Homo sapiens: one gene and its partner. The protein of the gene in region 1 interacts with the protein of each later gene in a pairwise test. Each region holds a gene or a part of one and is shown on either strand. Other genes may lie near its edges.

What was found. The genes of interacting proteins can lie anywhere in the genome.
Region 2: the proteins of TNS2 (region 1) and ZNF250 interact in binary tests that used the Homo sapiens proteins (3 or more experiments, as listed by UniProt).

Annotation. Positions count from the first base shown.
Region 1 is NC_000012.12:53,059,918-53,063,664, reverse strand, and holds part of TNS2 (tensin-2), read right to left. Parts: coding exon 3,407-3,747; intron 3,261-3,406; coding exon 3,110-3,260; intron 2,991-3,109; coding exon 2,401-2,990; intron 2,286-2,400; coding exon 2,196-2,285; intron 1,851-2,195; coding exon 1,725-1,850; intron 1,513-1,724; coding exon 1,420-1,512; intron 1,290-1,419; coding exon 1,212-1,289; intron 1,046-1,211; coding exon 968-1,045; intron 577-967; coding exon 408-576; intron 317-407; coding exon 248-316; intron 103-247; coding exon 73-102; intron 1-72. UniProt on the Homo sapiens protein: Tyrosine-protein phosphatase which regulates cell motility, proliferation and muscle-response to insulin. Phosphatase activity is mediated by binding to phosphatidylinositol-3,4,5-triphosphate (PtdIns(3,4,5)P3) via the SH2 domain.
Region 2 is NC_000008.11:144,894,773-144,898,519, forward strand, and holds part of ZNF250 (zinc finger protein 250), read right to left. Parts: intron 461-3,747; exon of another isoform or gene 371-460; intron 1-370. UniProt on the Homo sapiens protein: May be involved in transcriptional regulation.

The DNA of each region.
Region 1 (3,747 bases):
ATGCCAGCATTGAGAGGACAGCAGCGCCCTGGTCCCTTGGAAGGAAGAGGCTGAATTCGTGGGGAGGCTTACTTGGAGGTGGTCCCGTCTGGGTTGGTCCATCTGCAGAAGGAGAAGAAGGTGAAGATGCACACCCCAGGGGACAGCTGCTGAAGGGGGGCCGGGGCCGGGGCTGGGGCTGGGGCTGGGAGCTGGGACCTGGTGGGACCATGGGGATTTGGGGCAAAGGGTTTGGAGGGAGAGTCACCTCCGGTCTTGAGGGTCAGTGCTGGAGAAGGTGATGCTGTTCACTGGATAATGGCGGCGAAAGAAGAGCCTGCAAGGAGGAGGGTGAGGAAGGTCACACTCAGAAACATGAGCCCCCAGGGGCCTTAAGCATGGGGTTCTACAGGGCTGAGTATACATACTTCCTTTGGTTGTCCGTCAGTGTAATGCCCTGGGCTGACACCTTGAAGTGGACAACAGCTGGTGTCGGGCGGGGGCTACAGCTCAGAGCTGCAGAGCTGGCCCGGGCCACAGCTTGGGGGCCCGTCAGTGACTCTGTCTCCACTGAGGTCAAGTAGAGCACGCTGCAGGCTACAGGGGCAGGGAGTGGGTCAGGGAGGGAGTGCCCATCCCCTAGCCACCCCCACCAGCTCTTGCACATTCCCCAGCTACTGCTGTCACATGCTTTACAATCACATAGGTGACTTGTTAAAAAGGCAGATTCCATGACTCTACTGGATCTACAGTCAGAAGCGAGGCAGAGAAGCCTCCCTGCTACCACCCCATGATCGTCTTGTTCATGAGACTTTGAGAACCTAGGCTGAGGACCCAATTCCTCATCCCCGACAGTATGGGGCTCCCCTGCCCTCATGGGTTGGCCAGGGCTCACCCACCTCAAGGCCTTTCAGTGCCCCATGCCCTGTATCCACAATGCCCCCTTGGTGCCCAGGGAGAGGGAGGGGAGTGGAGGGGAAGTCTCTACCAGCACCCTGACGCAGGAGGTCTGCCGCTGTGCTCATGTTGGTGGGCACTGGAGCCTCTGGGGTCTCTTCCAGAGGATCTGAGGGCAATGAGAACCGACAGGGAAGCTCAGAAGGCAGAGTGTTCCCCAGGCTGGAGCACTCCCTCTGCTTCCCCAAGGGAAGGCGGGGAGCCAAGACCTCTGGATCCTGCTTTGGCTGCAGGGGGTAGGGAGAGGTGGGGAGGACAGATGACCAGACACTCACCTTTGCTGGGAATGCGCAGGCAGCAGGGCAGGGAGATGGGGGAGATGGAGTGCTGGGAGACCAAGGCGGACAGGCTGCCTGTGGGAGAGGAGGTAGGAAAGTCCCGAGATGCCCAGGGTGCCCCGCCTTTCCCTTCCATCCTCCTGAGATCCCTTGGCATCTCCCTAAACCGACCCAACGTAGCCTTCCCCAGGCTCCTGCTTCTCACCAAAGTAGGGCTCACTGGGGCAGCCCTTGATCTTCACCCCTTTGGGCCCAGTCTCGATGAGGAAATGGCGGACCAGCTGTTCCACGGGGTCCCCTGAGAGGAGGCGAGGGGAAGATTGCGGCTTTAGGATTCCAGGTTCCAGCTTCTTCCCTAATGGGATTCTTTCCCGAGCAGCTGAGGTCTTTTCCTACCTCTCCCCTCTACAGCGGCATGGCCAGCACAGCACCCCCACCTGCCCTGTTACCTTGCCTCTGGCACCACCCCCAACTTCATCCCCACCCCACTCAGGTTTGGGTGTTCTGTACCTTTCCAGGGCTGGGCACTGGGTGGCGGTGTGGCCACCTTGAGGGCCAGCCCATAAGCTCCTTGGAATGAATGACTGTCCCTGATCAGGAAGGCCCCAGGGTCCTTGTCCTTCAGCAGGGCAATGGCTGCAGGGTGAGGGGTAGCGGGCAGTGGGGAGGAGTTTTCACAGGGGTGGACTGAGCCCCATGCAGCCCCCCTCCTCTGCTGCCAAGCTCCATGGTCTCTGCCCTGACAGCTGTGGTGGCGGTAAGAGTCTGAGGCCAGGGCTCTAGAGTTCACAGGGGTTTTGACCATGTTGGATCTCACCGCCTTGGCCCAAAGCCCAGAATCACCTGCTGGTAAACACTCAGCCAAGAGTAAACACAGCTCAGACAGGAGGAGCCAAGAGCTTCAACAGGATGGGACTTAAAGCCAAGACAGACACCCTGGAAGGTGGGATGCAGTGGGGTGGGGGCAGGCTGGCTTCTCACCTTGGTCACGGGACAGGTGTGGCTTGTACCAGAACTTGGATGTATCCTGGACAAACTTGACATTGCTTTGGCTCTCTTGTGTAGGAGGCTCTAGGACAGGGAGGGAGTAGGTTCAGACCCCAGGGTACCCGGGTCCCCATCCATGCTACATCCCAGGAGAAAGGGTTCTCTCAAGGTGGCACCAACCCCCTCAAGGCCTTTATACCTGGGGTTTGGGGGACATTATCTGAGAGCAGAGGTGCGAAGGTGACATGGTGACTGATGCCTCTGGCTGGCGATGATGCCTGCTCTGGGCCCCAGGGTCCTGGCTGTTGCCCCGGCCCGGGCAGGTGGCGTTTCTCAGGAAGTGGGGGCTGGCTAAGGCCATTGGTGTCATAGGAGGCAGCCAGGGGGAAAGCAGGTGTAGGTGAGCTCTGAGGCGGCTCTGGGCTGGCCACAAGCCAGGGCATCTGGGAAGGCACAGGAGTGAGGGGAGACCCATCTGGGCTGTCGGGGGGGCCTCGAGGGCCTTGCCAGGGGGCGTGGCGGAGGCCAGGAAGTGTGGTGGGCACAGGGCTCCGAGGACTGGCGCCATCTGAGTGGCCCCCTGGACTCCTTTCCTGAGGCCAGTCACTGGGCGAGCTGGGAGGGAAGGTCGGAGAGACTGGGCTAGGGGCCAGAGGCTCAGGCCCACTTCCCGACGGCAGCTCAGGGGCCTTTCCGGTGCCTGCCTGGGAAACAGGGGGCAAGGCCTCGCCAGGACTCAGTCTCTGAGTGGGCGCTGAGGTGGGGGACCTGGTGTCCTGTCGCCGGGTGCTGTAGGGTGGAAGGGCAGATGGTCAGCAGAGCCCCCATTGTGGCTGCTCCCACCCCACCTGCCTTCATCAACTGCTTGGACAAGAAAGCACTCGAGCATCCCCGGCCCCTCTGCATACCTTTCCTTGCCCTGGACTGGACTGCTGGTGTGCAGGGGCGTGGAGGGACCAGACAACTCTGACGAAGCACTGCATGGGGCATCTCGGGGAGACCGAGGCAGTGTGCTGTGCCCACTGGGGCCCTCCCTCCAGGACACCGGCTCCAGCGACTCTGCAGTGAAGGGGAGAGGTGGGCTGTGAGCAGGATGGGGCTCTTCTGTCTGGCTTAGCTGTTTCTCACCCTGTTCCCCCTTGACTTCCCCACCATCTTCCAGAACCTCCTCTGCCCTGGGCACTCCGCACTCTGGTGCCCCTCACCTGCAGATGCCAAAGGTCCTGCTGAGGCCAGGTGCCCAGGCAATGGGTACCTGTCCCCTCCCTCCTCCGTAGGGATCTCGTAGCTCAGCTTCCTAGATTGTGGATAGGGCGGGCTGCCCGGGGAAATGGAGCCAGCCCGTGGGGAGTGGGCACCAGGGCTGGGATACCCTCTGCCCTCTCCTGGAGAGCCACAGCTATGAGGCACACGGCCATATGCTGGGCAGTAACTGGGAACTGCTCCTCCATAGCTGTATGTCACCAGGGCAGGGTACCCTGGATGCCCATACCTGCCTTCGGGGCACATGGTGTAGGAGCAGCCCTCGTGCCCTTCCTCGCCTGCC
Region 2 (3,747 bases), on another chromosome or scaffold:
TCAGCATCCCAAGTAGCTAGGAATACAGGTTGCACCACCATGCCTGGATAATTTCTTAATTTTTTTTTTTTGGTAGAGACGAGGTCTTGCTGTGTTGCCCAGACTGGTCTTGAACTCCTAGGCTCAAGGGATCCTCCCTCCTTGGCCTCCGAAAGTGTCAAGATTACAGGCCTGAGAACACCACACCCGGCCTGTTTGTTGAATAAATGAATGAAGAGGAATGAGCTCACACTTTATGCCATCTGTAATAGCCAAGTACGGAGTCAACACTTTAAACTGGCAGGCATGGGAAAGTGGAGTTTCTCATACTCTTAAGAAGGCGACCTAGCAGTATTTAGGCAAATCAGACTGGCCCTTGGATAGTGGGTACCTGATAAGAATGGATGTGGGTGAGGGTGCAGATTCAAGGATGTTGCTGAGGCAAATGCTACGTTGGTCCTTCCACATACAAGTTACACACCTGCTAAAGAGAAAGATGTATGTTGTGTCAGGTCACCAGATGGGTGAGTGAAAATGCAGCATGGGGCCAGCATGCAGGGGAAAATCTCATTTTGTAAACTATGACCCCGAGCCCATGAAGGGTATGTGTGTCACAAGGACCTGGGACTGGTTCACCTGCCTCACTTGGGCCAGCTGCATTGAGGCCCCACCTATAAATCCAGATGACACACTCCTCTGAAGGCCTGGAGATCATGTGGTTGGTGAGAGGAGAGCGCTAAGAACAGGCTTGGCTCAGAGGAGGATGCTGCTGGATAAGGTGTTATTATCTATTTGATTAACACACAGAGGAAATACTCCAAAGGACAATACCAGGCTGTCAACAAGTGTGTGGCAAGGAGAAGTGAAAGGGAAAGACTGCCACCTGGGGTGAGTCTTAGAAAAGCATCACACAAAATGCAGTATCAGGTCTCTATTGAAAGATGACCATCACATATTGCTAATTAAAAAAAAAATCGGCCAGGCGCAGTGGCTCATACCTGTAATCCCAGCACTTTGGGAGGCCGAGGCGGGCGGATCAAAAGGTCAGGAGTTCGAGACCAGCCTGGCCAACATAGTGAAACCCCGTCTCTACTAAAAATACAAAAAGTTAGTCAGGCATGGTGGCAGGCACCTGTAATCCCAGCTACTCAGGAGGCTGAGGCAAGAAAATAGCTTGAACCTGGGAGACAGAGGTTGCAGTGAGCCAAGATTGTGCCACTGCACTCCAGCCTGCATAACAGAGCAAGACTCTGTCTCAAAAAAAAAAAAAAAAAAAAAATCCTATCACAAAGTCTGATTGTATTCTGGTAATAAATGAACAAAAATGGCTGGGCATGGTGACTCACACCTATAATCCCAGTACTTTGGGAGGCCAAGGTGGGAGAATTGCTTGAGTTCAGGAGTTCAAGAACACCCTGGACAATATAGTGAGACCCCGTCTCTATAAAAAAATTTAAAAAATTAGCTGGTTTGTAGACCTAGGTACTCTGGAGGCTGAGATGGGAAGATTGCTTGAGCCCAGGAGGTCAAGGCTGCAGTAAGCTGTAACTGCACCACTACACTCCACCCTGGGCAACAGAATGAATCCCTGTCTCAAAATAAATAAATAAATAAATAAAAATTAAAAAAAAATATGAACAAAATACATTTTAAAAGTGGTATTAACTAGTTTAAATTTTTTCCTTACTTACACTATGGCAGATAAAGGTTTCAGTTTCCTGGAACGAGCCTGTAACAGGATACCAGGCCAGGCAAACACCATGGACCTCAACCTAAACCTTGCATACTCAAGACAGGAAAATGTAAGAGCTATCGGGGGTGCCAGAAACTGGCTTTTAACAACACACTCCATCCACACTTCACGGGATTCTGACGTCCAACTCCAAGCTTTGCTCCATGAGAACACAGTTCAGGCAGGGAAGGAGGATGATGTGGACAGTTTTAAAAAATTAAGACAGGCTAATGACGAGTCCTCTATAGATGCCAGGCTCCAGGGCCAGGGGCTGGGACAGGCTGGAGATCACCGCCACAGAATACTGGAAGTGGAGTTTGAGGAGCCCCCTCTTGAGGCCATGCCAACAGCTAACAAATGGGCAATATAAAGAACACCCACTCAGGGCACTGGCTGAGCAATGATCCCTCCCACCCACTGGTTACAAAGGTGGCAGCATAAGGAGCTAATTTTTCAAACTCAGGAATTTCAATCTTGAAAATTTCCCTAAGGAATAATCCAAAACAAAAACAATAGATCAACGTTATTAGCAGCAACTGGCTTTCCAGTTTTCTTTAGGTGATCAAAAGCCACATCGCAGTGAGACATTCCTATCACTCTTTTTGGAATTCCTGACTGTCTTGATGTGACAAAGCAGTGTGCCTGTCATTCCAGAGGACCCTGCACATGGTCACACACTGGGACAGGCACATTTGGAGTCTCCTGATCTGGGATGAGCTTCCAGGATCTCCTCCAGGGCCACTGCCTTCTCCTGCTCCTCATCATCCTCACTCCCTGGACTTTCTGCTAACAAGCACTGCTCCCTCTTCATCACCAAGGAGCCCCTACCCGCTAGGGTGAAAGCACTTTCAAGAGAGGCAGCTTCTGAGCCACTTGTGAGCACAAGGCGAAACACTGCTAAACTTGACCTAATCTAAACTAACCCTAACTAACCTAAACTAACCCTAACCTGCAACCTTTCCAGAATTAATGATCAGAAATATGTATCCAAATTGATAGCTTTCTGGTCGGGCACAGTGGCTCATGCCTGTAATCCCAGCACTTTGGGAGGCCAAGGTGGGTGGATCACCTGAGGTCAGGTGCTGAGACCAGCTCGGTCGGGGAGACCCTAACCCAGCGGCGCTAGAGGAATTAAAGACACACACACAGAAATATAGAGGTGTGAAGTGGGAAATCAGGGGTCTCACAGCCTTCAGAGCTGAGAGCCCTGAACAGAGATTTACCCACGTATTTATTAACAGCAAGCCAGTCATTAGCATTGTTTCTATAGATATTAATTTAACTAAAAGTATCCCTTATGGGAAACGAAGGGATGGGCCGAATTAAAGGAATAGGTTGGGCTAGTTAACTGTAGCAGGAGCATGTCCTTAAGGCACAGATCGCTCATGCTATTGTTTGTGGCTTAAGAATGCCTTTAAGGGGTTTTCCACCCTGGGCCGGCCAGGTGTTCCTTGCCCTCATTCCGGTAAACCCACAACCACAACCTTCCAGCGTGGGCATTATGGCCATCATGAACATTTCACGGTGCTACAGAGATTTTGTTTATGGCCGGTTTTGGGGCCAGTTTATAGCCAGATTTTGGGGGGGCCTGATCCCAACAGTCAGGAGTTCAAGACCAGCCTGGGTGACATGGTGAAACCCCGTCTCTTCTAAAAATACAAAAATTAGCTGGGTGTGGTGGCACGTGCCTGTAATTCCAGCTCCTCCCAAGGCTGAGGCATGAGAATTGCTTGAACCTGGGAGGTGGAGTTTGCAGTGAGCCAAGATCGCGCCATTGCACTCCAGCCTGGGCAACAGAGTGAGACTCCATCTCAAAAGAAAAAAAGCAAATAAACAAACAAACAAAACAAAACAAAACAAAACAAAACAAAAAAACAACCAAACTGATAGCTTTCTTATATACCAGTAACACCTAATCAGAAAATATGAATGGAAAAAAATCTATTCAACAAATAGCAACAAGAAACAAGATTAAACCTTAGAAATGCAGAGTCCCTATAAAGAAAACTGTAAAACATCAAGGAAACACTTGAGGA